6 linked regions of the Homo sapiens genome follow. The protein of the gene in region 2 purifies or fractionates together with the protein of the main gene of each other region. This does not show direct contact. Each region holds a gene or a part of one and is shown on either strand. Other genes may lie near its edges. The genes, in order: RNF123, ZMAT4, CPVL, DSG4, DICER1 and LYG2.

Region 1 (5,314 bases), on a different chromosome or scaffold from region 2:
CATATATCCAGTCCTTTGCTGATGGACACTCGGGTTGCTTCTACTTTGGGCTACTGTGAATAATGCTGTAATGAACATGGGTTTGCAAAGATCTCTTTGAGACCCTAATTTCAATTCTTTTGGTTATATACCCAGAAGTGGAATTACTGTATCATATGGTAATTCTGTTTTTTATTTTATTTTTAATTTTAATTTTTTATTTTTTTTGAGATGGAGTCTCACTCTGTCACCCAGGCTGGAGTGCAATGGTGCGATCTCGGCTCACATCCTGGGTTCAAGTGTTCTCCTGCCTCAGCCTCCCGAGTAGCTGGGACTACAGGTGCGCACCACCATGCTCGGCTAATTTTTGTGATTTTTTTTTTCTTTTTTTGAGGTGGAGTTTTGCTCTTCTTGCCCAGGCTGGAGTGCAATGGCGCGATCTCGGCTCACGGCAGCCTCTGCCTCCCAGGTTCAAGCAATTCTCCTGCCTCAGCCTCCTGAGTAGCTGGGATTACAGGCATGTGCCACCACGCCCAGCTAATTTTGTATTTTTTTTTTTTTGAGACAGAGTCTCACTCTTTCACCCAGGCCGGAGTGCAATGGCGCTATCTCAGCTCACTGCAAGCTCCGCCTCCCGGGTTCACACCATTCTCCTGCCTCAGCCTCCCGAGTAGCTGGGACTACAGGCGCCTGCCACCACGCCCGGCTAATTTTTTGTATTTTTAGTAGAGACAGGGTTTCACCGTGTTAGCCAGGATGGTCTCGATCTCCTGACCTCGTGATCCACCCGCCTCGGCCTCCCAAAGTGCTGGGATTACAGGCGTGAGCCACCGCGCCTGGCCTAATTTTGTATTTTTTTTTAGTAGAGATGGGGTTTCTTCATATTGATCAGGCTGGTCTTGAACTCCCGACCTCAGGTGATTCGCCCGCCTCGGCCTCCCAAAGTGCTGGGGTTACAGGCGTGAGCCATCGCGCCCTGCAATTTTTGTATTTTTTGTACAGATGGGGTTTCACCGTGTTGGTCAGGCTGGTCTTGAACTGCTGACCTCAGGTGATCCGCCTGCCTCGGCTTCCCAAAGTGCTGGGATTGCAGGCATGAGCCACCGCGCCCGGCCAATTCTGTTGTTTAATTTTTTGGAAACTACCATATCATTTCTACAGTGGCTGTGCCTGTTACATTCTCACCAGTAGTGCATGAGGGTTCCAATTTCTCCATACATATCCTTACCGACACTTCTTATTTTCTGCCCTTTTTTTTTCTTGGTAGACGCAGGGTCTCACTATGTTGCCCAGTTGTCAAACTCCTGGGTTCAAGGAATCCTCCTGCCTCGGCCTCCCAAAGTGCGGGGATTATAGGCATGAGCCACCACACCCGGCAATTTCTACTTTTTTAATAGTAAATCCTAATGGGTAGGATATGGTACCTTATTGTGGTTCTGCATTTTGCTAATGATTAGTGACATTATGACAAATAGTACCTTTACAAGCACTTATTGGCCATTTGCATATCTTTTGTTTGTTGGTTTGTTTGTTTTGTTTTGAGAGGGAGTCTCGCTCTGTGGCACAGGCTGGAGTGCAGTGGCAAGATTTTGGCTCACTGCAACCTCTGCCTCCCAGGTTCAAGCGATTCTTCCACCTCGGCCTCCTGAGTAGCTGGGACTATAGGCATACGCCACCACGCCCGGCTAATTTTTGTATTTTTAGTAGAGATGGGGTTTCACCTTGTTGGTCAGGCTGGTCTCAAACTCCTGACCTTAGGTGATCCGCCTGCCTCGGCCTCCCAAAGTGCTGGGATTACAGGCTTCAGCAACCGCGCCTGGCCATATCCTATAATTTTGCTGAATTTATTTATTAATCCTAGTTGGGGTTTTGTGTGTGTGTGTGTATCTTTAGGATTTTCTACTTATAAAATCATGTCTGTGAACAGAGATAATTTTACTTTATCCTTTCCAGTGTGGTTTCCTTTCTTTTTCATGCTTAGTTGCTCTGGCTGGGATTTCCAGGACTGTGCTGAGCAGAAGTAGAGAAAGTGGCACACTTGTCTTGTTCTTGGTCTGAGGGAGGGAGGGATTATAGTCTGTTACCACTGAGTGTGATGTTAGATGGAGGCTTTTCATATATGGTCTTTATTATGTTGAACTGCCTTCATTCTCTGCATCTTCAGCACTAACTCACCTGTGTCTTTCTAATCCCATTATTAATGGAGAGATTCACTCCTGTAAACCAGCACTTTGGGAGGCTGAAGCGGGAGGATCACTTGAAGCCAAGAGTTCATGACCAGCCTGGGCAACCCATCTCTACAAAAAAAACAAAATTTAATTAGCGGGGCATGGTGACACATACCTGTAGTCCCAGCTACTCTGAGGTCAGGAGTTCAAGACCAGCCTGGCCAACATGGCGAAACCCCATCTCTCCTAAAAATACAAAAATTAGCAGGGCGTGGTATCACATACCTGTAGGAGGATCACATGAGCCCAGGAGTTCCAGGTTACAGTGAGCTGTGATTGTGCCACTGCATTCCAGCCTTGACGCTATATGTGCCCAAAAGTTATGCTCTCTCCTTCTTTCTCTGTCTTAGCTGCTACATCTTCCCCTTCATCTCCCTCCAGCACAGGCTCTTCCCCATCTCTGAAATAGTCTCACCAGGGTCTCTGTCTGCCCCCATCTCAATCCGGCCGGCACATTTCCATCTCCTTTGCATTGATACCTTAGCTCTGATGGGGCCATTGCCAGCCCCTCACCAGACACAGTCTTCGCTGGCCTTCTGTAGCAGCAGGATCATCGCTGCCTAGGTTTGCGCCTAGGCCCTCCCCTAACCTCTTGCTTACATCTTCTCCTCAGTTCCTTGGGCTTTAGGGCACATCAGAGAGCTGGTGTGAAGCCCAGGTGCTGTGACCGCACTCCAAGACACACGGGTGCTGTGGGTCTGGGCTGGGGCCTGAGGCCTCATTCTTGCCTGGGCTCCTTTGTGAGACCCTGACATAGACTTTGTGGAAACCACATTGTGGGGAGCAGGGCCCTCAGCAGGTTTTGTCTGTTTCCTGTGACCTCTGTTCCACCAGTCACACTGCCCCCTGCTTTCCCACCACCTTCTCCTTTGCACTCCAGATCAAATTTCTGCCTGTCTGCTTACCATCGCCAGCTCTCTTGGGCCCTTCACACACCTTGTACTCCACTTTTCCACACAGACTTCCAGTCACAGCACCCTCTTGCCTAAAACTTGCTTACAGGCTGAGGCAGGCAGATCACCTGAGGTCAGGAGTTCAAGACCAGCCTGGCCAACATGGCGAAACCCCATCTCTACTAAAAATACAAAAATTAGCCGAGCGCGGTATCACATACCTGTAGTCCCAGCTACTCGGGAGGCTGAGGCAAGACAATCCCTTGAACTTGGGAGGCGGAGGTTTCCAGTGAGCCAAGAGGGCGTCACTGCACTCCAGCCTGGGTGACTCCATCTCAAAAAAAAAAAAAACTTGCTTACAAATATGCTGACCAGAGTTCTGGCCTGGGTCACAGTAATGCGCCCTCCAGGCTGAGTGCGTCCCTCTTGCCTGCTGAGGACTTGATTGCCCTGCTTGAGCTACTGCTCATGCTTCCTGAAATCCAGGTCTCAGTTGTGCTGTCGTAGGCCTGGGGAGGCCTTTCCTGATCCCCAGGCCAGGACATGCCCCCAAGACCCCACTGGTGCGCAACCCAGCAGCACCCCGTGTGCCTCCTGCAGGAGAAGATGCTGGACATCTACTGGCTGCTGCGCGTCTGCCTGCGGACCATTGAGCACGGTGATCGCACAGGGTCTCTCTTTGCCTTCATGCCCGAGTTCTACCTGAGCGTGGCCATCAACAGCTACAGTGCTCTCAAGAATTACTTTGGTCCCGTGCACAGCATGGAGGAGCTCCCAGGTGATGGAACCATTCAGGCTGAGGCAGAAGCAGAAAAGGGGTCTCTAGTGTGAGCCCTAGGAGCCCTGGTCTGAGACCTCTGTGGCCCAGCAACACACTTCTGTGGGGGGCGGGGAGGGGAGGAGCTTCCTCTGTGGTTCACCCTGCAGCAAACAAACGTCTGCACCCTGCCCTGGGACCTGCAGCCACAGAGCCAACAGCTCCCTAGCAAAGGAAAACAGACAAGATGGAACACGGTGGGTGTAGACCTCTTGGCTTTCACTTCCTTCCTAGTGCTATGAGCAACTGCCATGGTCCAGGAGCCAGCTGGCCTTGCACCTTGACTCCCTGGCACTGGTCACAAAGCGTAGCAGTTGGTCAGGGGCAGAATGGTTTGTCTTGGTAAATCACAGCAGGGGGTGGACCCTGCTAGGGTCCACATCCGAACCTGGGCCTCTCAGCCTGCTGATTCCAGGCTGGGCGTGGCAGTGTATGTCTGGATCAGGCAGTGAGCTGTCAGGCCCCTAGCCTGCCCCCTGCCCAGCCACAGGCCTCAGTGCAGGCTTTGTCTTCAAAGACAGAGCTGTGAGTGCCCAAGGAGCTTTGACTGCTCATCAGGTGTGTGTGCTGAGATGGGTTTGAGCCCAGGTCAGGGCTCCTGCCAGGGCCTGTCATCCCTTCACAGTGAGCCTGTGCCTTAGCCCTTGCACAGCCACCAATGAATGCTTTGCCCGATGTCCCCAGATGCCACCCTGGGTCCAGGCTGGCCTTGGGAGCCAGCTCTAGAGCCTGCTACCCAAGTCCACCCACCCTGCTGACATGCCTGCCTCTGGAGCCCCCACTCCCAGCCGACACGTCTCACTTCCCACCCTTGCAGGCTATGAAGAGACCCTGACCCGCCTGGCTGCCATTCTCGCCAAACACTTTGCCGACGCACGCATTGTGGGCACTGGTGAGGGGCCCCTACAGAGGGTACAGGGGGAGGGGGATGGGATGGCACCTCTGGTCGGCTTTCTTCTATGAAAAATGTGGCCAGGTGGGCATGAAGTATGGGTCCAGGGCTCATGCCAAGCCCCTGCTGAGGCACGGTGTGTCCCCGCAGACATCCGAGACTCACTGATGCAGGCCCTGGCCAGCTACGTGTGCTACCCACACTCCCTGCGGGCTGTGGAGCGAATCCCCGAGGAGCAGTGAGTGGGGCCTGGGGGGCACACACCCTGGCCACAAGCACCATGCCCAGCCTCACCCCGTCTCTCCCCTCCTTGCCCTCACAGGCGTATCGCCATGGTGAGGAACCTCCTGGCGCCCTATGAGCAGCGGCCCTGGGCCCAGACCAACTGGATCCTGGTGCGGCTCTGGAGGGTAAGCCTGACTCGAGGGGAAGTGGCTGAGGCTGGCTGGAGGGAGAGGGTGCGCTGTCCCATTGACCTGGGCACTGACCCCCACCTCCACAGGGC
Region 2 (5,314 bases):
GGTTTAGTCCAGAAAGGTGGGACAACTAGAAGCGGGGTTCGGAGGCTTCCAGGCTATAGGTAAATGTAAACATTTTTTGGTTGACAATTGGTTGAGTTTGTCTAAAGACCTGGGATTAACAGAAAGGAATGTCTGGGTTAAAACAAAGGGTTGCAGAGGCACAAGTTTTTATTTGCAGAGGAAGCCTTCAGATAGTAGGCTCCCGAGAAAATAGGTTGCAAAGTGTTTCTTATCAGACTTAAAGTCTGTATTGATGTTCATGCTGGAGAGGTATAATGAGGCAAGTCCGACTCCTATTTCCCATCATGGCCTGAAACAGTTTCTTAGGTTAAATTTTAAAAGAGCCCTGGCTGAGCAGGAAGTCCATTCTAATGGTTATGGGGAGGGTTTCTTAGAATTTTATTTTTTGGTTACAGGGTCCTGATGATGCCCAAAGCCTAGCACTTTGCAGACCCCTTGCTCTGCCTCAGCTGTAGCCAGAACCCCCAAAGTAGAAGGGAATGGAGTCACCCAAATAATGGAGGTCAGGTTGTGATGTTGTGGATCTCAGGAATGAGGAGGATGTGTGTGTATTAGGAGTTCTAGCAAGTTTCCTCATCTGTAAAATGATGATGTTCGACCTCCCTAGATAATCTCTGGGATCCCTTCTGGCTCTAACATTTCATTAATTTGTGATTTTATGAAAAACGTTTTGCAAAGCAAATGAATAGTGTAAACAAGATTATAAAGAGAATATTTGCCTTCTTAAGGGAATAAACTGTTCTGAAGCACATCAGGAGTGGTCATTTGCATATAAACAATGCAAATTCTATATAAGCAGAGGAGGCTTGTTTTCTTAGGTGTTTTGGTAAGTCAATTACAAATCGTTCTTATCAATTTTGCTAGTGTATATGTATTAGGAAGCAGAAGAGTTGAATTCATTTTAAAAGTGCTATACTTTCGAATGTTCCCAATTTCTTGAATGTTCCCAATACCTGACTTTTCTCTGAATTAGCCTGAGTTTTCTTAAATTATTTCTTTATTCCATGGGTTAAAACATTTGTGATTTGTTTTTTTCAAGAAGGTTTTGGATAAATTGTTATGTTCATCAGATCTCAGAGGTGTCAACTGAACCCCATTCTACTTTCAGTCGTCCTGAATGGGCTTAGGACTACCCAAAAAAGTCTATAACCTGTTAGGGTCCAAAGTCCTGCCTCCACTTTTGATTCCCAACATCTTAATGATCTCTCTTCATCTTTCTCCCCTGTACATTTGAGTGCTTCTTTTTCCCACTCCCCATATCAATCAGACTACATAGGCTTCCAATACAAATTACCACTTTGGAAGTATTTTATTTGTCTAGATGACTGTATTGAAGATTTGGTTGTCATACAGAGCTATCAACATGCAGAGAACAAAGCCATCTTCCTGATTCTATTCTCTCTAGGCCTCTTCCCCTTCTCTCATATTCTCTTTCTCTTCTCTTTTTTTTTTTCTCCAAACCCCCTCATCCCGCTGACATTCACCCTTTTCAGAAGCAAGACACCTTGTGCCCCTTGTCTTAAGCACAGCAGTTTCCTTCTGTAGCTTGGGCATTTTCTTAAAGTTTTGTTCTCCACTCCCAGGTGGTTGCTCAAAATATTCCAAATACATTTTGTTGTGTCAGGGTAAATTCAGGAAACACGATCTGGAAGAAGCAGGTTTCCACCAAGGGGGATAGGAGAGGCTGGGCAAGCAGAGAGGTGGGGGATGAGTTTCCAAGCAGAAGGAACTGCCTGCACCAACCATGGCAACATGTGAGAGCCAGCACGTAGAGGAGCCTCACCTGATTTTCTGTGATCCAGATAGGTGGAGTAATCGCAAGGAATAATGAGTAAAAGACAGGAATGGAGAAGAAGATGCCAGTGACATTACAGTGACCTTTATGTGTCATATTAAGACATTTTTATTTTCTCAGAAGGTGCTGGGAACCCAGTGAGGCATTGCAACACCAGTGTGATGAGGCTGCAGAGCTGACTGCAAACATCCCAGATAGAAAACTAGTGCAATGCCACAGACCAGGAGTAGGACATGGGGCAGGGGATGCAGAGGAAATGGGACATTTAAGAGAGAAGTAGGAGACCAATAAGATTTGGGATTGATTGATTATGGGCTGATGGAGAAAAAGGAACTGGCCAGGGAAAACGCTGCACTTTTGTCTTGAATATTTATTGGCCAAGTTAGGAAATACAAGAATAGAAATTAGGAAATGTTCAATTTTGGAAATATAACTTCATTTGGTTTATCAATGCACTATTTTAATTTATGGGCCCAAAGTGTTATGTCCTTGGATGTCATTCAGTTCTCAGGCAATAGGCTGAACAAGTTCCAAGTCATGACTGTTCAGCAACATTTTTGTGAAAAATGCCTTAGACATGACTCCTCCTCTCCTAACAAACTCTGGCCGTATCATTTCATGTAAACCATGGCCCATGACTGCCTTTTCCTTGTCACTATAAGCTTGCTACCTGGCTATCAGAAATTAGGCTTCATCATGGCTAAGGATGTTCTGCTCTGTTTTTTCACTGGCTTATTGAACAGTTTACATTCAGTGTGGGACCAATTAATCATTATATATTTCTCTAGCTACCACCTTCAAACTCACATGGTCAAAGTGCTTTCTTCTTTCTTCCTCCATATTGTTAATATCTCAGGAAGATTGTGTACATATCTGGTCATTTTTTTTTTTTTTTGAGACAGAGTCTTGCTCAGTCGCCAGGCTGGAGTGCAGTGGCAAAATCTCAGCTCACTGCAACTTCTGCCTCCTGGGTTCAAGCAATTCTCCTGCCTCAGCCTCCCAAATAGCTAGGACTACAGGAGCATGCCACCATGCCCAGCTAATTTTTGTATTTTTAGTAGAGACAGGGTTTCACCATGTTGGCCAGGATGGTCTCGATCTCTTGACCTCATGATCCGCCTGCCTCAGCCTCCCAAAGTGCTGGGATTACAGGCGTGAGCCACCACACCTGGCCAAGGTGAGACCATTTTCAATGGTTGTTACTAGTCTATCTTAAGATTTCTGTCTCAAAACCAGGTCAGAGAATCCCCCTATCCTGGACCTTCAGGATGAGAATAAGGGGAAAGACTAGTGGTGGAAGAAGCGGAAGCTTTTGGACATGGCTGTTCCTACAGATGTGATTCTCATCTGGCTTGTGCTAGAAGGCTGCCACATGCCCCGTGTGGCCCAGACTTCAATAGGGGCTGAACATCACAGAAGTTCTATGTCGCGCCACATTCCCTGACAGGGACACTTCTCTTTTGGGAAGGCAGAGGTACCCATTCCAAATTGCCCAACATTTTTCTAACTGCTTCCTGAGACCCCATGAAAAGTCCCTATTAACACTCAGTTACATTAGTTTTAGAAAGGTAGCAAATGTGGGCCGGACGCAGTGGCTCACACCTGTAATCCCAGCGCTTTGGGAGGCTGAGTTGGGTGGATCACCTGAGGTCAGGAGTTTGAGACCAGCATGGCCAACATGGCAAAACCCTGTATCTACTAAAAATACAAAAATTAGCCAGGTGTGGTAGCACGTGGCTGTAATCCCAGCTACTTGGGAGGCTGAAGCAGGAGAATTGCTTGAACCTGGGAGGCAGAGGTTGCAGTGAGCTGAGATTGTGCCACTGCACTCCAGCCTGGGCGACAAAGCGTGACTCAGTCTCAAAAAAAAAAAAAAAAAAAAAAAGGTAGCAAATGTGCAAATGTGAAACTGAGGCCATGTTTTCATCATGTTTGTGGTTTCATATATGTCAAAAAGAAGATGAGCTATCTGACTATGACTGGTATGTATATGGCGCAATTGAAATTCTCTCTTCAGATGGAATCATATTTAAGGCTGTCAGAGAACAAAGACTGCCCTTCGCCACAAATGGAAGCTATGTGATGAATTTTTTTCCCTATGCCTTTCTTCAATTTTCTATTTAAAGAAATTTCTGAAAATACATGAATTATGCAGCTTATCTCTCAGATGAAAAAGAATTTTCTTCTTGGATTGGATGGCTGCGTGTTTATTAATAGCAGTGAAATTTTCCGTGTTCTTTTGTATCAAATGGGATGCTGACTAAAATATGAAGTAGCCTTTCCAGCAAAAATAACAGTAATGGATGAATAATTACAAAAGCTATAGGGAACTGAAAGACATTTTAATTTGTCATTATTTCTATGTATTCAGAAAGGATCTGAATAATTACAATGACTATAAAAAGGAAGAATGTGATATTTTTCCTCATTATGGGATTAAGTTCTTAATATACCACTTTTACTATAAGTTTAAAAAAAAAACCCTTTCATCTGATTTTCTCTAACTATGTAATCATGACTAAAGACTGTTTAGCTGTGAATATTTGGTCTTCTTACTGTTACGTGAAGATGCTGTCCTTCAAACTCTTTTTAATCTCAAAAGTGTTCATCTTTGCAGTTTATAAAAATGAAATTATACTTATTTGCTCAGTGAGAACTTTCAACCCTTATGTCACATTAATTTTTGAAGATGACAAGGACTGTTGAATTTCTTTAGGTCATGACCGGATGGTAGCAGAGTATGAGATTCTAAAACAGGATTTTAATTTTTATAACAACTACTAAAAAGTGGCTATAGCTACCAGGGTCATGCTAAGGCAAAATTTCAAACATTTCAAAGCTATTTTTAAAAATATGCATATAGTCTCAATTTTTTTAGTCTACATTATACCAACAATGTTCAAATTCTTATTCAGATCCTAAGAATATTCTATGACAGCACTGTTTTTGGAAAATGAAATTTCAACATATGCTCTGTGTTTCTAGGTGAGTGATAGAATTTTCTTTTGTAGCTTTTGAATTTTCATTTACCAGACTGCCAGTGAGACATTTGGACCTTAGCGAAGGAAGATGGGAAAACCTGTGAAAAGAGTCTAACCTGCTCTAACACTTTTGCCACCCTTCCCTCTAAAATATTCTTTAAGGGAAACAGCCACCACTAGAAGATGCTTTTCCAGCAGCTTCCTTTCAGCTGGAGCACTTCTTCAGCAGCATGCGAGAAATCCCCGGCAGAAGATGTCAACAAGCTCTCTCACCTCCTGCTTATGAGTTTTTCCAGGGTTCAAGTTCCACTGCTTAACAGCTGTTTGATCTTGTGCCATTAATTTAGCCAAGTGAAACCTCAGTGTTCTCACCTTTAAAAGGGGTGGAAATGGCACACATAGTAAAAGTGGTCTGTGGATTAAATTAAAATGTAAAGTAAATGTAAAATTCATGACTCGTAGTAGGCATGTTGTAAGAGGTAGTATCTTGTTGTCATAAAGAAAAAAACAAAACTAA
Region 3 (5,314 bases), on a different chromosome or scaffold from region 2:
CCCTAAAATGCTGGCAGCTGATCCACAATCACACATTCAAACATCTTTCTCCAACTACCACCTCCTGTCCGAATCTCTTCTGCTAATGTACTGATCTTACAGCCCTGCAACCTCACTACCTTTCAATCCATTGATCCTCCTGCCTCTCCACTATCTCTAACCCCCTCAAGTCTCCATTTCTCTAATTACCTGTCTTCAACCCAGGGTCAGTCATTCCATACATTTCCAAGCCCAAAGCTCTTTTGCATTTCTTCCAACTCCTTTGGCTGAACCACAGCCCTGGCTCAATCTGCCTCTCTGTCAGGCTGTGCTTGTCTCCACACAGCTGACAATGGCTGGAGGAAAGCATGCAACCATGCTGACTGCTCTCCCGCTCAGCTGGTGACTGGGTTTTTTAATGTCAGCCCAAAGATAACTTCCACCAGCTCCAGGAACCTGCATCTGCACCATATCCTGCGTCTTCTCTCCATGTCATCTGGTGAGCAGTTCATGATCCATGTTAAGGCACCCTTCCCACAAGGCTTACTCCCATAGGCAAGGCCTTTGAGCTTACTGTGTCCTCTGCCTGGAACCTTCCTTCCCCTAGATGTCTGCATGGCTCTATTCCTCTCATCCAATATGTCTTTACTCAAATGCCACCTTCTAAGTGAGGTCCTCTGTGACCTCCTCTCTACATTGTCCCATACACACATGCACACACATGACACTTCCTACTCCTCTTTAGTTTTCTCCTTGTCATTCCCTAACATACTCAAGAGTTTATCACTGTCTACCATATGATATAATTTACTTAGAAATGCTTGTTGTCCCCCACCAGAATAAAAGCTCCATGGGGGAGGACCATTGGTCTGTTTTGTTGATGGCCATTTCTCCAGTGCCATGACAGTGTCTAGCACAGAGAATATGCACAATAAGTGGGCGCTGGATGAAACAATAAAGGAATGAAAAAGTTGTTGAATAAATGAAATGACAAATGTCTGTACATTTTTATCCACACTGATGTTTTCTTTCTTTCTTTCTTTCTCCCTCTCTCCCAACCTAGATACTGGATAAACTACTAGATGGCGACTTAACAAGTGATCCTTCTTACTTCCAGAATGTTACAGGATGTAGTAATTACTATAACTTTTTGCGGTGCACGGTAATGACATTTTAAAAACCATAATAATGTTTGCTTAAAACTTTTGGCAAAACCGAACTTCCTTTGATTTGGGAAATATTATAGATGACTTTATACTAGACCAACATGTCCAAACTGTACCGCGTGATGTGGTCTACTAACCCATAGAATCTTTTCCTCATCAGTGTTGTATACGTTATAATCTGACCACTGAGAATGTGTGATATTTCAGATAACTCAAAACAACTTCTGATGAACATGATTTCCCCCAAGTAGAGCTTGTTATAGAGGCACTTTTGTGAAGGACACAGGCTGGGATTGGAGTTCTGGGTCTCAGGTCCCAGAGCTTCAAGTCTGTTTACGAGTCTCTTGAAAATGCCCACATTCTTTGTTCTGTACTTAAGACGCTTGGATAATCAAAACTGCCAAAGCCTTAATGAAAATATTTGCTTTGTCTTACTTTTAAGATGTTTAATGCATTTAGTATGGCCCTCACTTCAAGCCTTCTGGAATATTTCTCAAAGTATTCAAGTAGTTTGTTTCATAAAAGTAGGCCAAAGTTGATATCTTTTGTGTAGAATTAGTCAAACAGAAGGAGCCAAAGTAGGTGTTTGAATTTGTATAATCTTTGTCTAATGCTTATGACAATGCATTCTGTTTTTAAAATTGCCTGATTTATGAACTAGTTTGTAAATAAAGTATAACGTTAGTTTCAGTGGAATTCGCCAATGCTGCAGTTTTGGATTTAGATTCTACTAAGAGAAAAACATGTGGTAGACAAGACAGAAACAAAATTTGTGATGATACCTTTTTTTCTTTACAACAATATATTCACAGTTAGTAAAAATTGTTGATGAAGCACAAAGTTGTCAAACTCAAACTTTAACAGTTTTTTTAATCCTTGTGTAACTGTTTTTTTTTTAAAGCATTTACTCCTTTCTTTCAGTATAATGATTATTACAGAGACTTTATTGCAGTTTTTTTTTTAATAAGCTTCATGGACAACTTTTCTTCTGTCTTGTGTCCTTCATAAAGTATCATCTCTTTTCACATTTGACATATTTTCCCCTTTATTATAGTCAATCCAATTTTGTGTGTGTGTGCGGTTTTTTTTATTTTTTAATTTTATTATTATTATACTTTAAGTTTTAGGGTACATGTGCACAACGTGCAGGTTTGTTACATATGTATACACATGGACACAGGATGGGGAACATCACACACCGGGGACTGTTGTGGGGTGGGGGTAGGGGGGAGGGATAGCATTAGGAGATATACCTGATGCTAAATGACGAGTTAATAAGTGCAGCACACCAACATGGCACATGTATACATGTGTGTGGTTTTAATAAACAGCAGAACACAGAAAAGAAATTCTTAGCTTTAAATCCAGCACACCACCAACCTGGCCCTTGTGATCCATTTGACCTTCTTTCCAAAGAGCCACCAACAAGGAGTGAATTGATTTTGATAATCTCATCTCTTTTGTTTTCTCTCTCTTTGCCTCTAGTGGGGTTGCTAATGGGAGTCACAGATTGCAAAAGATTAGTTTCTGCAAAGGAAAATCCTGTATTTGCAAATTGGGTATTTTAAGAGTATTTTAAGGGTATTTCAGATTTCTAATTAGTAAAAAGATTCCACCTAAATTATCTCAAAACCTCCGAGTTAAAATTTCAAGAATGGCGACAAGTTAATAGTCCCGTCACGTTTCTCCATGTTGTATGTTATGAGAAATTCACAGCTTTTCCCAACATACTGTTCCTGCCACCAATCATGTTCCCTATGTCTTTCCAATGCCCCTTCTGCCAGGAACCTGAGGATCAGCTTTACTATGTGAAATTTTTGTCACTCCCAGAGGTGAGACAAGCCATCCACGTGGGGAATCAGACTTTTAATGATGGAACTATAGTTGAAAAGTACTTGCGAGAAGATACAGTACAGTCAGTTAAGCCATGGTTAACTGAAATCATGAATAATTATAAGGTAAGAGAGCTACTTCAGTTACTATTTTAGGAACTTTCAGATTACCCAGAGCAGAAGTGATTTGTAATTTGAGTCCTGCCTTTTTTTTTTTTTTAACTTTTATGATGTGTCATTAGCATAAATAACAGCCCCTTTCTTTGTTTGATTCCAATTCAAAGTTTTATATTGTTCCTTTTAATTTAACCACTTTTGCCGTTGTGGTGACTTATACCTGTAATCCCAGTGCTTTGGGAGCCTGAGGCGGGTGGATCACCTGAGGTCAAGATTTTGAGACCAGCCTGGCCAACATGGTGAAACCTTCTCTCTACTAAAAAATACAAAAACTAGCTGGACATGGTGGCGGGTGCCTGTAATCCCAGCTACTTGGGAGGTTGAGGCGTGAGAATCACTTGAACCCGGGAGGCAGAGGTTGCAGTGAGCCAAGATCGCAACATTGCACTCCAGCCTGGGCAACAGAGCAAAAACTCTGTCTCAAAAAAATAAAAATAAAATAAAATAATTTAACCACTTTCCCCTGATTATTCCTTAAAATGAAATTCCCTTTGGCACACACCACTTCTCATCCTTTCTTGAGAAAGGAAGAGTTGCAGAGCCAAAAAGATGACTGGCCGTGTGTAAGAGCCAGATTTCTCTTATGTGTTGCTTTGTTACATGAATCCCAATGACGTCAGGGATAAATGAAATCAACTGGTTATTCTGAAAATGCATTTTGCCTAATGGTTGTATTCATTCACTTTACCCAATCACAGTGTTTTGAGTCTCTCCTTAGGGTGTGAGGTTGAAATGATGAATGAGAAAGGGTCCCTGTTTGGAAGTAGGTCAAGTCAAGCCATTGTGCTGTCTGGTTGAAATGCTCTGCCTTTGCTGCCAGTGGAGGTGCCAGTGGAGAGTGAGGTCACAGAAAAGGAGCCCTGGAGGTTCAGGCAAAGAAGACATGGGCCCTGGAACTCCCACTGGGAAGGAGGACACCAAGAGCAAATGACATGGGGAAAGTCAGCCTGTGTATTATTTCTTTCCTGGTACTACGCTCTCAGCTCCTCCTCTGGTCCTCCAGTGCTGTTAGCCTTTGCCCAAGGGATCGTCTCTAGGGCAACTCCGAAGGATGCCTGTACTGATGACTGGGGAGACCACCACTGAGTGATCCACTTCCTCCCTATATCCTGTTTTGAATGAACAAAAAACAGGGCAGTCGGCAGCCCATAGGATTTTTGTATGAATTAGAATAAAGGCATCCTCTCCTCAAGATACTTTATTTCGATCTTTCAGAAATTGTCCTGATATACTGCCTTAGTTAAAACCAGACTCTTTACTGCCATTTGCTGGCATGCTGAATATTCATTTCTACAATGTGTATATTAGGAATGGTGTGTCTTAGGATTGTTCAGTGCACAATCTGCAATACTATCCAGGCAGTCCCTGGCCAATGCACCCTAACTAGACTGTGGTTTAGAATATGCCAGACCTAGGAGGCCCATTTCTGGGTCCTGCTTCTAGTACAGTGTTGGACACGTAACCATTGTTGAAAATAGTTTAAGACCAATTATATGCCAAGTCTACAAACCCATTATAAACCTGCAAAACTTGATGAAATACTTACTTTCTTGGAAAGAAAGAGTCTAACTAGGTCAGGCCAGCATTTCAGCCATCCTTGTGTTTGGTTTTCTTGGGGACATGTAGTGGCCCTTAGTGCTTGCTGCTTCAAGACTTCTCAGAGGACCTCCAGAAGGCACTGCTGTTTGTCCTCTCCTCTGAGCTCTCAGAACGCGTTGTCTTTACCCCCATAGGTGTACATGGCACACTCTAACGTGCAGACTCTCAGTCTGACACCCATACCACCACCAGCCTGGAGCAGATGTCAGGAATGAATGAATGATTAGTGCTGTATCAAAAATATATCTATAAACCTGTCCATAATCCATTAGGTGCTTATTATCCACAAATTTATTAAACCAAAAAGAGGTTAGCGTTCATGTCTTAAAGATGATGTTCTGTAATGTGATGTTAAGGAATGGAACGAGTGAATTTTTTTGAGAGGAGAGCAGATAAGTTTGATATGTGTTATTTGTGCCCTTGGGAGATATATTTTCTCACTGTACACACTTTTTTTTTTTTTTTTTGAGATAGAGTTTTGCTCTTGTTGCCCAGCTGTAGTGCAATGGTGCGACTGGCTCACTGCAACCTCCACCTCCTGGGTTCAAGCAATTCTCCTGC
Region 4 (5,314 bases), on a different chromosome or scaffold from region 2:
CTTAATTAAGCATTTTTAAATGATTTCACAAGACCATGGCAAAAAATAAAACAGATAAAAATCTGTTTATTCAGCTATATGATAAAGAATCTATTGAACTTCTTTTTCGTACTTTAAAGAGAACTATGTTTAGCCACTAATTTAGTATTTAATCATTTAAGGAGTGCAAGTACTTTTAAAACAGTAAAGGGTTTTATAAAGCAAACCACATTTTTTTTAATCACTGGTAGAGCTGAAAGTTATGGTACTATATTCCCATGGAAAACTCAAACAGAGAGAATTCAGGAGAAGGCCAACCACTCTGTCTTCTTATGCCTAATGATTTGCTGAATTTATTCTAAGAGTCCCAACCATTCTCCACCTCCATTTCTATTTCTAGATACATTGGTAGTAAAGTTATGTGCCACAGATGCAGATGAAGAAAATCATCTGAATTCTAAAATTGCCTACAAGATCGTCTCTCAGGAGCCATCAGGTGCACCCATGTTCATTCTGAATAGGTACACTGGAGAAGTCTGCACCATGTCCAGTTTCTTGGACAGAGAGGTAAAGCCTTCTGTGAATGAACAAGAACTAAAAAATTCAATTTTGAAAAGACAAAGATAAAATGATCCATGTGTACCCTTACTCCAATATAAAGGAGGGAAGAAAAATAATCCATTTTTAATAAAAATTAAAAGCTCAATTATATAAATTTCATTGGATATGTAAATAAAAGAGTAGAGAAATAATGGCATTGAATGCATTGGATTCTATTCAAGACAAAACCTAAGTCTTACGTTCTTTTTCATCTTGATTAAGCAACACAGTATGTACAACCTGGTTGTGAGAGGCTCAGATCGGGATGGAGCTGCAGATGGACTGTCTTCTGAGTGTGACTGTAGAATCAAGGTTTTAGACGTCAACGATAATTTCCCCACCTTAGAGAAAACTTCAGTAAGTTTGTATTCTTATCTTCCTTTTTCCATAAGTGTCAATAATCAATTTGCATAAGTGTCAATAATCAATCATGCTGGCTCATGAGCCTGGTTCTGTCCTATGTGTGGACATACTCAACTTTGTTATAGAAACTTTGGAATTTCTTATGTATACTAATATACCTTCAAATTGTATGTTTGTCTTTGACTCACTACTCCAAACAAGCCTTCTCTGTGAAAGCAACGAACTATCTATTCTGTATACTCTATTCACAGAAACACAGAAATCTGTTGATCTAACTCTGGGAATAACATAGCAACATTAATGTTTTTGTATATGCCTCATGATTTGCTGAATGAATTCTACTAGAGTCCCAGACAGTCTCAACTTCCATTTTCATCTCTAAGCATAAAGAAGCATAAAATCCACACTAGCAGGGCCAAATCTGGCTTGCTGTCTGTTTCGGTTTAAAAAAAAAAACAAAAAAACAAAACAAAAAACGTGTTATTGGAGAGCATAGCTGTCCTCATGCCTTTACATATTGTCTATGGGGGCTTTGTGCTGCAACAGCAGACGTGAGGGGTTGCAACACCAATTCTCTGGCCCACAATATCTAATATATTTACTATTCAGCCCTTTACAGAAAAAAATCTGGTCCTCTATCTAAAAGAAAAGAATAAATAAAGAAAATTAACAATAAGCAAAAATAAATAAATAAATAAAAGAGAAAGGAACAAAGTGCTAATTTGACCTTGATTTTACATACAGCACATGAATGTCAGTTTTATTATCTTATAATCATTTTATTCTTATTCTCCTGATTGGACTATGGGCATTTAATAATGGTGCAAAAATCATCGACATAGTTTGTTGTTAGTATTTTAAATAATAATAATGTGTTTTAAGTACGTTTCTTCTTTTGAAAATTCATTGACTACAAAATTGATCCTTGCATTTTAGTACTCAGCCAGTATTGAAGAGAATTGTTTAAGTTCGGAACTGATACGATTACAAGCAATTGATCTTGATGAAGAAGGCACTGATAACTGGTTGGCTCAATATTTAATTCTCTCTGGAAATGATGGGAATTGGTTCGATATTCAAACAGATCCACAAACCAATGAAGGCATTTTGAAAGTTGTCAAGGTACAGTATAAGGATCTGCAATATTTTCTTCCAAAATATTTTATTCCAAAGAAGTTTTAAATGACCTTAGAGACAGAATCTGCCTTTAAAAAAAAGTACTTCATAACTTTGAATATTGTTTATATCAAGGGTCCTAAGTAACTGCTATGTCAGTCTGAGTCTCCTAGCTAGCAACACAAAACTTATTACCAAGAAAAATATGAAGACTGTTTTGTTCTGACAGTGTCCAATATCTAGTTGTGAAGATAAGGTAAGCAACCCCAAATTAGAAGATATATGGGAGTTCACAGTGCAATAAATAATACAGATGTCATGATATAAAACATAATTAATTGCCAAGGGAGTGGAATATGAAATAATGAAAGAGATAAGAAATGGTGAGATCCTTCTGAGCTAGATTTGTCTGAAAAGATTTCATGCAGGAAATAAGGCTTAAGCAAGATGTTATAGCTAAGATTGCTAATGTGGGTAATAAAATAAACAAACACAGAGTGAGAAAACATGAAGCAAGTTCAGGGCATGGTGAGCAACCCCGTGGGGCTGTAGTGGGGCATCAAGTAGGGAAGTAATCAGAAGTCAGATCAGAGAAGTGAAGCTGAAATCGATCTGCTGAGAACCTTGCATACTGAAATACCGGCTTTGATTTTTTTCTATAGATTAATTTTTCTTTAATTACTTGCTTTTAATTCACAGACAATGATAAAACTGAAAAATTTATAATTAGAAACGAATAAAACCACAAACCAATAAGATTCAGATTAACATTACTGTAATGAGGGAAATTGTTATTTTTTAACAAAGGAAATTGCTGCTAACAACATAAACAACACTTATAGCCAGGAAAATATATATTAAGACATATATGTACACACATATTTTTAGCTTACTACACAGTGTGATTGTGGAATTTACAGTGTGATTATTCAGTTCTGTTACTATTTTTCTCTATTCAAGCACATAAGGCTCTTTTTGTGTTACCATAAAGTAATAGCTGAGACTGGGTAATTTATAAAGAAAAGAGGTTCAGTTGAATCACCATTTTGCAGGCCATACAGGAAGCAAAGTGCCAACATGTCCTTCCAGTGAGGGCCTCAGGAATCTTACAATCATTGTGGAAGGCAAAGGGGGAGCCAGTGCATCACATGACAAGGGCAGTAGCAGAAGAGAGAAGGGGGAGGTCCTAGACTCCTGTAAACAACCAGATCTCGCAAAAACTCATTTATCACCAAGGCTATGGTGGTAAACCATTCGTGAGGGATCTGCCCGATCACCCCTCACCAGGCCCCACCTCCAACTTTGGGAATCACATTTAAAGATGAGATTTGTGGGTGACAGACATCCAAACCATATCATCAAGTTACTGTGAAGTTTTTTCAGATAGCATATTAGGAAGCCATTTAGCCTTCTGGAAGCAAACATATCGTTTATTCATTGGGTCTTTCGCTTTTCTTTCTCAAGTATCTGAGCAATTTTAGTATTACTACTTTACCACCAAAGCACAACCATACACACTGAAATCATATGGTATATTAACTTAAGAGCTGGCCACCAAAATTATGAAAAATATTTATATATAAGATTGTCATCCAAATGAATACACACAATTTTATAATTTCTTAAGTGAACACAAGGACTCAAAGAGTATATCATGGACTTTCTGTTTGGAAAACATTGCTTTGGGCCAGAGGTCAGCAAACTATGATCCAGAGGTCCTCACCTGTCCCCTGTTTCATAAATAGTTTTATTGGAATACAACCACATACATTCATTTACGTATTTTCTGTGGCTGTTTCCACACTCAAGTTGCTGATATGAATACTTGAGATAGAAACTCTGTATGATATGACCCCTAAAACCTAGAACATTTACTATCTGGCCCTTAACCAAAAGTTTTTCAATTCCTACTTATAGACCAAGGAAAGCTTTGGGATATTTTCTAAAATAACAATAACACCGGCCTGGCAAAGTGGCTCACGTCTGTAATCCCAGCACTTTGGGAGGCCAAGGCGGGCAGATCACCTGAAGTCGGGAGTTTGAGACCAGCCTGACCAACATGGAGAAACCCCATCTCTACTAAAAATACAAAATTAGCCAGGTGTGGTGACACATGTCTGTAATCCCAACTACTCGGGAGGCTGAGGCAGGAGAATCGCTTGAACCCGGGAGGCGGAGGTTGCAGTGAGCTGAGATTGTGCCATTGCACTCCAGCCTCGGCAACAAAAGTGAAACTTAACAACATGAGTTCAACTCTGAAAAGACCACAGTTATAAAAATTATTATGATATTAATTAAGTTCTGAGGTACTAAGCATCTGATCTAAGGCAATGGCAGTAAAAATGGAAAAAAAAAAAAAAAGGAATGGGTATAGGAGACATTGCCAAATACAATACAAAGAGGAATAGAGGAACAAGAGGTCACCTCCCACCATATCAAATTCTGAATATTTAGTCAAGTTTTTCTTCCAGGGATCAGAATTTGTTAAACCTTGCATCCTGGTTAAAAATCAAGAGCTAGACATAACATGCAATTCTTACCTATGTTCTTATCATCTTAGTGACTAACTTTGTATATTATCTCATAATATGTAACTGCTCTTTGCTTTTGTTCTGTCTCCCAACCTACTAAAATAATAGAAGAATTTTGTGCATAAAGAACCTGATCTAAATATCTTTCTACCCCCAGCACCTGGTCCAGTGTCCAAAAGATAGTAGAGACTCACAAAATTTGAGAATAGTATTGATGATACTATTTACCTGAAACTAATGGCATAGATATCATCCAAACAGAAGTCACTGGACTTGATTGCATCATTCGTAACTTCTGCATACAATTATAAATATGAAAAAAATTAACAATGCAGGCAATGTACTATCTGACTTATGTAATGTGCCTTCTGTGATAACAACTTTTTTAAAGATATACTTAATTGCTAAAAAAAAAAAAAAGCTATTGAAATATCAATTTCATGAAAAATTTGTCAAGGTAATTTGGATGCTGTATATACAAAGCCCTATCTATTTTTTTCTGAATGATAACTTTCCAAATCTCTTAAAAAGAGTAAGAAAAAATGTGCTTAAAAATACCAAAGTAATGGAGAAAGGCTAATTAAAATGAAATTTTAAACCTTGATGTTTGTATTACTACCTAGCCAAAAGAACTATTTTAGAGAACATAAGCGTAATTTTCCCATGTTTGACATTTTCAACAGCTGGTGGTCAGCCTCTCATTCCAGATACATCTGGAATGAGGT
Region 5 (4,715 bases), on a different chromosome or scaffold from region 2:
TGTTTTACATTCCTTTCATTTTATTATGCATTAGACGTTGAGACAGCGTGATACTTACAACTCACTAGTATAGTTGTAACTTATTACAGGATCATACTAAAATTTCTGTCATATGTATACTGAAGACATTTTAAAAACCAGAATATGTAGTCTACGGATATTTTTTATCATAAAAATGATCTTTGGCTAAACACCCCATTTTACTAAAGTCCTCCTGCCAGGTAGTTCCCACTGATGGAAATGTTTATGGCAAATAATTTTGCCTTCTAGGCTGTTGCTCTAACAAAATAAACCTTAGACATATCACACCTAAAATATGCTGCAGATTTTATAATTGATTGGTTACTTATTTAAGAAGCAAAACACAGCACCTTTACCCTTAGTCTCCTCACATAAATTTCTTACTATACTTTTCATAATGTTGCATGCATATTTCACCTACCAAAGCTGTGCTGTTAATGCCGTGAAAGTTTAACGTTTGCGATAAACTGCCGTAATTTTGATACATCTGTGATTTAGGTCATTAATTTAGATAAACTAGCTCATTATTTCCATCTTTGGAAAAGGAAAAAAAAAAAAACTTCTTTAGGCATTTGCCTAAGTTTCTTTAATTAGACTTGTAGGCACTCTTCACTTAAATACCTCAGTTCTTCTTTTCTTTTGCATGCATTTTTCCCCTGTTTGGTGCTATGTTTATGTATTATGCTTGAAATTTTAATTTTTTTTTTTTTGCACTGTAACTATAATACCTCTTAATTTACCTTTTTAAAAGCTGTGGGTCAGTCTTGCACTCCCATCAACATACCAGTAGAGGTTTGCTGCAATTTGCCCCGTTAATTATGCTTGAAGTTTAAGAAAGCTGAGCAGAGGTGTCTCATATTTCCCAGCACATGATTCTGAACTTGATGCTTCGTGGAATGCTGCATTTATATGTAAGTGACATTTGAATACTGTCCTTCCTGCTTTATCTGCATCATCCACCCACAGAGAAATGCCTCTGTGCGAGTGCACCGACAGAAAACTGTCAGCTCTGCTTTCTAAGGAACCCTGAGTGAGGGGGGTATTAAGCTTCTCCAGTGTTTTTTGTTGTCTCCAATCTTAAACTTAAATTGAGATCTAAATTATTAAACGAGTTTTTGAGCAAATTAGGTGACTTGTTTTAAAAATATTTAATTCCGATTTGGAACCTTAGATGTCTATTTGATTTTTTAAAAAACCTTAATGTAAGATATGACCAGTTAAAACAAAGCAATTCTTGAATTATATAACTGTAAAAGTGTGCAGTTAACAAGGCTGGATGTGAATTTTATTCTGAGGGTGATTTGTGATCAAGTTTAATCACAAATCTCTTAATATTTATAAACTACCTGATGCCAGGAGCTTAGGGCTTTGCATTGTGTCTAATACATTGATCCCAGTGTTACGGGATTCTCTTGATTCCTGGCACCAAAATCAGATTGTTTTCACAGTTATGATTCCCAGTGGGAGAAAAATGCCTCAATATATTTGTAACCTTAAGAAGAGTATTTTTTTGTTAATACTAAGATGTTCAAACTTAGACATGATTAGGTCATACATTCTCAGGGGTTCAAATTTCCTTCTACCATTCAAATGTTTTATCAACAGCAAACTTCAGCCGTTTCACTTTTTGTTGGAGAAAAATAGTAGATTTTAATTTGACTCACAGTTTGAAGCATTCTGTGATCCCCTGGTTACTGAGTTAAAAAATAAAAAAGTACGAGTTAGACATATGAAATGGTTATGAACGCTTTTGTGCTGCTGATTTTTAATGCTGTAAAGTTTTCCTGTGTTTAGCTTGTTGAAATGTTTTGCATCTGTCAATTAAGGAAAAAAAAAATCACTCTATGTTGCCCCACTTTAGAGCCCTGTGTGCCACCCTGTGTTCCTGTGATTGCAATGTGAGACCGAATGTAATATGGAAAACCTACCAGTGGGGTGTGGTTGTGCCCTGAGCACGTGTGTAAAGGACTGGGGAGGCGTGTCTTGAAAAAGCAACTGCAGAAATTCCTTATGATGATTGTGTGCAAGTTAGTTAACATGAACCTTCATTTGTAAATTTTTTAAAATTTCTTTTATAATATGCTTTCCGCAGTCCTAACTATGCTGCGTTTTATAATAGCTTTTTCCCTTCTGTTCTGTTCATGTAGCACAGATAAGCATTGCACTTGGTACCATGCTTTACCTCATTTCAAGAAAATATGCTTAACAGAGAGGAAAAAAATGTGGTTTGGCCTTGCTGCTGTTTTGATTTATGGAATTTGAAAAAGATAATTATAATGCCTGCAATGTGTCATATACTCGCACAACTTAAATAGGTCATTTTTGTCTGTGGCATTTTTACTGTTTGTGAAAGTATGAAACAGATTTGTTAACTGAACTCTTAATTATGTTTTTAAAATGTTTGTTATATTTCTTTTCTTTTTTCTTTTATATTACGTGAAGTGATGAAATTTAGAATGACCTCTAACACTCCTGTAATTGTCTTTTAAAATACTGATATTTTTATTTGTTAATAATACTTTGCCCTCAGAAAGATTCTGATACCCTGCCTTGACAACATGAAACTTGAGGCTGCTTTGGTTCATGAATCCAGGTGTTCCCCCGGCAGTCGGCTTCTTCAGTCGCTCCCTGGAGGCAGGTGGGCACTGCAGAGGATCACTGGAATCCAGATCGAGCGCAGTTCATGCACAAGGCCCCGTTGATTTAAAATATTGGATCTTGCTCTGTTAGGGTGTCTAATCCCTTTACACAAGATTGAAGCCACCAAACTGAGACCTTGATACCTTTTTTTAACTGCATCTGAAATTATGTTAAGAGTCTTTAACCCATTTGCATTATCTGCAGAAGAGAAACTCATGTCATGTTTATTACCTATATGGTTGTTTTAATTACATTTGAATAATTATATTTTTCCAACCACTGATTACTTTTCAGGAATTTAATTATTTCCAGATAAATTTCTTTATTTTATATTGTACATGAAAAGTTTTAAAGATATGTTTAAGACCAAGACTATTAAAATGATTTTTAAAGTTGTTGGAGACGCCAATAGCAATATCTAGGAAATTTGCATTGAGACCATTGTATTTTCCACTAGCAGTGAAAATGATTTTTCACAACTAACTTGTAAATATATTTTAATCATTACTTCTTTTTTTCTAGTCCATTTTTATTTGGACATCAACCACAGACAATTTAAATTTTATAGATGCACTAAGAATTCACTGCAGCAGCAGGTTACATAGCAAAAATGCAAAGGTGAACAGGAAGTAAATTTCTGGCTTTTCTGCTGTAAATAGTGAAGGAAAATTACTAAAATCAAGTAAAACTAATGCATATTATTTGATTGACAATAAAATATTTACCATCACATGCTGCAGCTGTTTTTTAAGGAACATGATGTCATTCATTCATACAGTAATCATGCTGCAGAAATTTGCAGTCTGCACCTTATGGATCACAATTACCTTTAGTTGTTTTTTTTGTAATAATTGTAGCCAAGTAAATCTCCAATAAAGTTATCGTCTGTTCACTTTGTGTCCTTTCATCTTTTTTCAATTCAAGTGGGTAATAACGTTTAAATAGTGGTAGCAGAAATGATCTTTATAATGTTTCAATTCCATGGTGAATCATATGAAAATGCATATTTTAATATAAAATTTTGTTTACCAAGTTCTGCTTCATGTCCACCTGTAGAATTATATAGTAACAACTGTCTTTTTTGAAGACTTAATTCCAATCTGCTTTTTGGAAATTCTGTCACATTGATTGATGCATTCTAGGTCTTGGATTATTTAGATGATGTGTTTGACACATTCTTGAGGTGAACTTGGCTTTTCTAAAAGCAGGTGGACAGAATGTTCAGCTTCCAGGTTTTTAGGACACATTTCCAATATTGTTGATTAAGAAATAATTCTATCATTTTAGCCTTTTGACCCAACTTTTTTTGTAACTCAGTAAACCAAGCACTAATATGAATCATTTGGTTGTAGAAACAAGATGGTAAGAAGTTTTTTAGAATGAGAAAAAAGTTTAGTTTTCCTTTGTAGGTTTAAATTAGTCCCTTCCTTTCCTCTCTCTCTGACTGCCCTAAACTAGATGAGAAAAAAGTATATTTTAATCCTAAGGAATTTGGGTAAGTGCTGCATGCTTGTGTGTGTTGATGTTACTGCCCTGAATTCTCTAGATAGTTCAGGCCAAGCCTCAGGGCCACAGGTCCTTCCTGCCACCATTGACCCTACCCTCCAAGACAAGCAACTGCTCACGTCTGCAGCTGTCACGGCTAGCAAGAAAGAACACAGCCAGGCTGAATGTATCATTTTGCAGATTGCGATGTGCGTGAAAAGAATCCAGATGGGATTGAATTTTTGTGTGTGTGCAGATCCGTGAGCACAATGTATGTTTTAGATGGAATGGTAAATGCTGGGTCCCAGCCAGCTCAGGTCTGTGCCCCTTGGAAAGATGCAAGGAGCAGAGAGATGTGCAGGCCAGGAGAAGTGCTTTATAACTGGTCTGCAAGGCAGTTTATGAACAACCCTTAGAAGGTTTTTTGGTGTGTATGTGGTAAAATACACATAAAGTTTACCATCTTAACCATTTTTAAGTGTACAGTTTAATGGCATAAAGTACCTTCACAGTGTTTTGCAATTCTCACCACCCTTCATCTCCAGAAGTTTTTCTTTTTCTTTTTTTGA
Region 6 (5,314 bases), on a different chromosome or scaffold from region 2:
TACACAGGAGGCTGAAACAGGAGGATTGCTTGAACCCAGGAGGAGTTCGAAACCAGCCTGGGCATCATAGTGAGAGCCCATCTCTAATTAAAAAAAAAAAAAAAAAGAATTTAAAGTTAAAAAAAGAAAAGAAACTGTTTCTTCTACTTCAGAAGAAAACCATTTTTAAAAATTTGCTAAGTTAGCCACAGCCTCTGATCACTGCTAATGACTTGGGACAACCATTCTAAGACATCCTTTTGATCTCTGACTGCAGAAACAAACAGATCCACAACCCCCAACAGGTGTCGCTTCTGCTCTGTTTCTCCTTCAAATTGCTCATGCCTGTAATCCCAGCACTTTGGGAGGCCGAGGTGGACAGATCACTTGAGGTCAGGAGCTCAAGACTAGCCTGGCCAACATGGTGAAACCCCATCTCTACTAAAAATACAAAAATTAGCTGGACTTGGTGGCAGGCACCTGTAACCCCAGCTACTCAGGAGACTGAGGCAGGAGAATCGCTTGAACCTGGGAGGTGGAGATTGTAGTGAGCCGAGATCATGCCATCGCACTCCAGCCTGGGTGACAAAGCAAGACTCTGTCATACACACAAAAAAAATTCTGCCACACTAGTGCACTGGGAAGCCTGTTGTACTAGGAGTTAGCCAATGCATGTTTTAGCCTGGCTCCGCCACTAGTTGGTTCTGTTCTATTGGGAAGTATTCCCCTCCTTGCTGAGTCTTTGGGCTCTGATTTGTAAATTTGAGGGGTTGGGGTCTGATGTGACCTTGTGGTTGCTGCCAGCTCCGACACTCTAAAACCAGGATAACGTGATGAAGACGACTTTGGAACAGTATTGCTTCAAATGGTCATGTGTAACATGAAGCAAACACAGCAGCACCACCCAAAAAACAAAGCCAGAGTCTAATATTTATTCAAGCAGTAGTTTCAATACATGGAAATAAACACAGCTGGACAAAGTTTGGAAAGAATGGGGGTGGAAAATGAAAAGAAGCTGGTTGTTAGATTGGTCAGGATTGTGGTTTTTGCTCATTTTTAATTTTGATACTATTGTCATAATGATGATTATACCTTTTCAAAATTAAGTGACTTCCTAAGAAAGAATCTGAAAACGATGAAAGGGGGAAGCCAGTCATTTGCTCTGCTTTTCACTTACCGCAGTTCATCACACTGTTTGCATCACAAGTGGCCCCAGAGGTCTTCATGGTCATGATGTCCCCATAGCAGCCGTGGTACAGGCGTGGATGTAGGTGAGGCTTCATTGAGTGACTGAAGGGGTATGAGCCCCTGGAAGTGCCTAGGAGGCAGAAGTGTAACTCACATGAATCCTCTGAGAAGATATTACTTGGGTTGCTGCAATAAACATCACTAAACCAAAGGCAGAAGGCCACAGACAGAACTCCCCAACTCTCTTGTTGCCATTATTTGTTCCTCAGACAGAAGTTCCCCATGCCCACTCTGCTCCGATCTTTTGTTTTGTTTTGTATTAACACAGGACGTAATCTGAAAACTCTATGCAAAATATTATGAAATTCATCTCTTATAGATCCTAAATACATGTGCAGTCTTTTTTTTTCCTTTTTTTAAGAGACAAGGTCTTGCTCTGTTGTCCAGGCTGGAGTGCAGTGGCATGATCATAGCTCGCTGCAGGCACCAACACCTGGGCTCAAACTATCCTCCCACCCCAGCCTCCTGAGTAGCTGGAACCACAGGTGCATATCACCAGGACTGGCTTATTTTCTCTTTTTGTAGAGATGGGGTTTTGCTATGTTGCCCAAGCTAGTCTCAAACTCCTGTGCTCAAGCGATCCTCTCTCCTTGGCCTCCCAAAGTGCTGGGATTACAGGCACTGTAGTCATACCATGCTCTATGTCAGAATTAAAACTGACAGGTTTTTAAGCAGGAAACTTGAGAGTTTTTTTTTTTTTTTTAAGATTCAGGGGGTACATGTGCAGGTTTGTTACGTGGGCATATTGTGTGATGCTGAGGATTGGCCTTCTATTGATCCTTCACCCAAATAGTGAACACAGTACCTGATGTGTAGTTTTCAACCCTTGCCTCCCTACCTTCCTCCCTCCCTCCTTCCTTTTACAGTCCCCAGTGTCTATTGTTTTGAGAGGAATTTTAAAACATTTCTGACACAAATGCCTCTGGAGATGTGAACATCTAGATTAACAATTTGCCTTTCTTAAGCCAAAATTGACAAATGGGGTCTAATTAAACTAAAGAGCTTCTGCACAGCAAAAGAAACTACCATCAGAGTGAACAGGCAACCTACAAAATGGGAGAAAATTTTCGCAACCTACTCATCTGACAAAGGGCTAATATCCAGAATCTACAATGAACTCAAACAAATTTACAAGAAAAAAACAAACAACCCCATCAAAAAGTGGGCGAAGTACATGAACAGACACTTCTCAAAAGAAGACATTTATGCAGCCAAAAAACACATGAAAAAATGCTCACCATCACTGGCTATCAGAAAAATGCAAATCAAAACCACAATGAGATACCATCTCACACCAGTTAGAATGGCAATCATTAAAAAGTCAGGCAACAACAGGTGCTGGAGAGGATGTGGAGAAATAGGAACACTTTTACACTGTTGGTGGGACTGTAAACTAGTTCAACCATTGTGGAAGTCAGTGTGGCGATTCCTCAGGGATCTAGAACTAGAAATACCATTTGACCCTGCCATCCCATTACTGGGTATATACCCAAAGGACTATAAATCATGCTGCTATAAAGACACATGCACACGTATGTTTATTGCGGCACTATTCACAATAGCAAAAACTTGGAACCAACCCAAATGTCCAACAATGATAGACTGGATTAAGAAAATGTGGCACATATACACCATGGAATACTATGCAGCCATAAAAAATGATGACTTCATGTCCTTTGTAGGGACATGGATGAAATTGGAAATCATCATTCTCAGTAAACTATCACCAAGGACAAAAAACCAAACACCACATGTTCTCACTCATAGGTGGGAATTGAACAATGAGAACACATGGACACAGGAAGGGGAACATCACACTCTGGGGACTGTTGTGGGGTGGAGGGAGGGGGGAGGGATAGCATTAGGAGATATACCTAATGCTAAATGACGAGTTAATGGGTGCAGCACACCAGCATGGCACATGTATACATATGTAACTAACCTGCACATTGTGCACATGTACCCTAAAACTTAAAGTATAATAATAATAAAATAAAATAAAATAAAATAAAAATAAATAAATAAAATTCAAAAAAAACCAATTTGCCTTTGTTTAGAAAGATAAGAAAGAAGGGCACCATAACAATTTAAATATATTCTTATTATATATCATTTACTGTGAAGTTGAGTTCCTATGTATATTTAATAAAATTAGAAGTAAAAATTGAATTTGCCAAAATAATTTAAGTCAAATCTATTCTTGTCTTTTTGTTCTGTCATTAAAAAGTGAATTTCTGTCCAAGTCTACCTGTTACAGGAGAGGCAGAGCTTTTGCTAAAGGAGATACAAAGTTATTTTCTGTAATGTTGAAAAGTTTGTTCTAACGGTTTCAAGGACTGTTAACTTGTACCTTAAGAGTCCAAATATTTGTTATAAGACAGTACTTAGGGCTGGATGTTGTGGCTTATGCCTAGAATCCCAGCACTTTGAGAGGCTGAGGCAGGACGATTGCTTGAGCGTAGGAGTTTGAGACCAGCCTATGCAACATGGCAAAACTCATTTCTACAAAAAATACAAAAATTAGCCTGGTGTAGTGGCACATGCCTGTAGTCCCAGTTGCATGGGAGACTGAGACAGGAAGATTGATTGAACCCGGGAGGTCGAGGCTGCAGTGAGCTTTGATGGTGCCACTGCACTCCAGCCTGGGCAACAGAACAAGACCCTGTCTCAAATCTCAAAAAAAAAAAAAAGGATTTTGTTAAAATGTTTGATGTAAAAAAAATAGAATCTGGTTGGGCGTGGTGGCTCACACCTGTAATCCCAGCACTTTGGGAGGCCAAGGCAGGCGGATCACCTGAGGTCGGGAGTTCAAGACCAGTCTGACCAACACGGAGAAACCCATCTCTACTAAAAATACAAAATTAGCCAGGCATGGTGGTGCATGCCTGTAATCCCAGCTACTCGGGAGGCTGAGGCAGAAGAATCGCTTGAACCCAGGAGGAGGAGGATGCAGTGAGCCGAGATCGCGCCATTGCACTCCAGCCTGGGCAAAAAGAGCGAAACTCTGTCTCAAAAAAAAAAAAAAAAAAAAAAAAGAATCTAACCACTTCTCCCACCTCTGCTTCTGCCATAGTCCCAGCCAGCATCATTGCTCATCTGGACTCTCCTAACAGCCTTCTAACTGACCTCCCTGATTCACTCTTGCAGCCCATCCTCTACTTAGTAGACGGAGTGGCCCTGTGGGAATATGCATGGGCTGCTATCAGTCTTCTCTCTTAACCTTCCAGTGGCTTTCTCCTCCTTTAGGGGAATAGCCAAGTCCATCCTGCAGCCTCCAAGACCTACTAGATGTGGCCCTCTGCTCCTGTTCCTACTTCTCTTTCCCTTTGTTCACTCTCCTCCAGCCACATTCTTCTTTGTGCTTATCCTTCAACATGCCAGGCAGGTTTCTGCCTCAAAGCCTGTATGTTTGTGGTCCCTTTTGCCTAGAATGCTATTCCTCCTGGTATCTACATGATCATGCCTTCAGGTCTCTGTCCAAATATCACCTTATCAGCAGAATATATAGCGAGTTTATAGACAAAAAAAGAAAATAGTCCTTAAACATATAAAAGACGTTAAACCACACTCAAAAGAAGAGAAAGGCCACATTAAAACATCATTATAACAGCATTTTCCAACTCTTTTTTTTTTTTTTTTTTTGAGACAGAGTCTTGCTCTGTCGCCCAGGCTGCAGTACAGTGGTGCGATCATGGCTCACTGCAAGCTCCGCCTCCTGGGTTCATGCCATTCTCCTGCCTCAGCCTCCCCAGCAGCTGGGACTACAGGCGCCTGCCATCACACCCGGCTAATTTTTTGTATTTTTAGTAGAGGCGGGGTTTCAGCATGTTAGCCAGGATGGTCTCGATCTGCTGACCTTGTGATCCGCCCACCTTGGCCTCCCAAAGTGCTGGGATTACAGGCGTGAGCCACCACGCCTGGCTGCATTTTCCAACTCTTTAGTTGGCAAGAGCCCAAAGGTTTGGCAATACCCTCTGTGGGAGAGGTTGTGAGGAAATAGGCTGTCACACACATTGCTGTGGAACACAGTTTTGTGATAGGCTGTTCATTCCAGCACTGTTGATAAGAGCAAAGGACTGCAAACAAC

Evidence for each region.
Region 1: the proteins of ZMAT4 (region 2) and RNF123 purify together in Homo sapiens (co-immunoprecipitation; one large-scale study listed by IntAct). This does not show direct contact.
Region 3: the proteins of ZMAT4 (region 2) and CPVL purify together in Homo sapiens (affinity purification with mass spectrometry; one large-scale study listed by BioGRID and IntAct). This does not show direct contact.
Region 4: the proteins of ZMAT4 (region 2) and DSG4 purify together in Homo sapiens (affinity purification with mass spectrometry; 2 studies listed by BioGRID and IntAct, with this or other methods). This does not show direct contact.
Region 5: the proteins of ZMAT4 (region 2) and DICER1 purify together in Homo sapiens (affinity purification with mass spectrometry; one large-scale study listed by BioGRID and IntAct). This does not show direct contact.
Region 6: the proteins of ZMAT4 (region 2) and LYG2 purify together in Homo sapiens (affinity purification with mass spectrometry; 2 studies listed by BioGRID and IntAct, with this or other methods). This does not show direct contact.

The regions. Positions count from the first base shown.
Region 1 is NC_000003.12:49,708,779-49,714,092, forward strand, and holds part of RNF123 (E3 ubiquitin-protein ligase RNF123), read left to right. Parts: intron 1-3,700; coding exon 3,701-3,878; exon of another isoform or gene 3,879-4,114; intron 4,115-4,734; coding exon 4,735-4,809; intron 4,810-4,959; coding exon 4,960-5,047; intron 5,048-5,131; coding exon 5,132-5,219; intron 5,220-5,311; coding exon 5,312-5,314. UniProt on the Homo sapiens protein: Catalytic subunit of the KPC complex that acts as E3 ubiquitin-protein ligase. Promotes the ubiquitination and proteasome-mediated degradation of CDKN1B which is the cyclin-dependent kinase inhibitor at the G0-G1 transition of the cell cycle.
Region 2 is NC_000008.11:40,533,065-40,538,378, reverse strand, and holds part of ZMAT4 (zinc finger matrin-type protein 4), read left to right. Parts: intron 1-5,314.
Region 3 is NC_000007.14:29,061,850-29,067,163, reverse strand, and holds part of CPVL (probable serine carboxypeptidase CPVL isoform b precursor), read left to right. Parts: intron 1-1,042; coding exon 1,043-1,141; intron 1,142-2,929; coding exon 2,930-3,103; intron 3,104-5,314. UniProt on the Homo sapiens protein: May be involved in the digestion of phagocytosed particles in the lysosome, participation in an inflammatory protease cascade, and trimming of peptides for antigen presentation.
Region 4 is NC_000018.10:31,390,277-31,395,590, forward strand, and holds part of DSG4 (desmoglein-4 isoform 2 preproprotein), read left to right. Parts: intron 1-379; coding exon 380-546; intron 547-801; coding exon 802-936; intron 937-1,878; coding exon 1,879-2,064; intron 2,065-5,314.
Region 5 is NC_000014.9:95,085,066-95,089,780, reverse strand, and holds the end of DICER1 (endoribonuclease Dicer), read left to right. Parts: 3' UTR 1-3,553; downstream 3,554-4,715. UniProt on the Homo sapiens protein: Double-stranded RNA (dsRNA) endoribonuclease playing a central role in short dsRNA-mediated post-transcriptional gene silencing.
Region 6 is NC_000002.12:99,245,524-99,250,837, forward strand, and holds part of LYG2 (lysozyme g-like protein 2 precursor), read right to left. Parts: intron 1,298-5,314; coding exon 1,157-1,297; intron 1-1,156. UniProt on the Homo sapiens protein: May act as a potent antibacterial protein that may play a role in the innate immunity.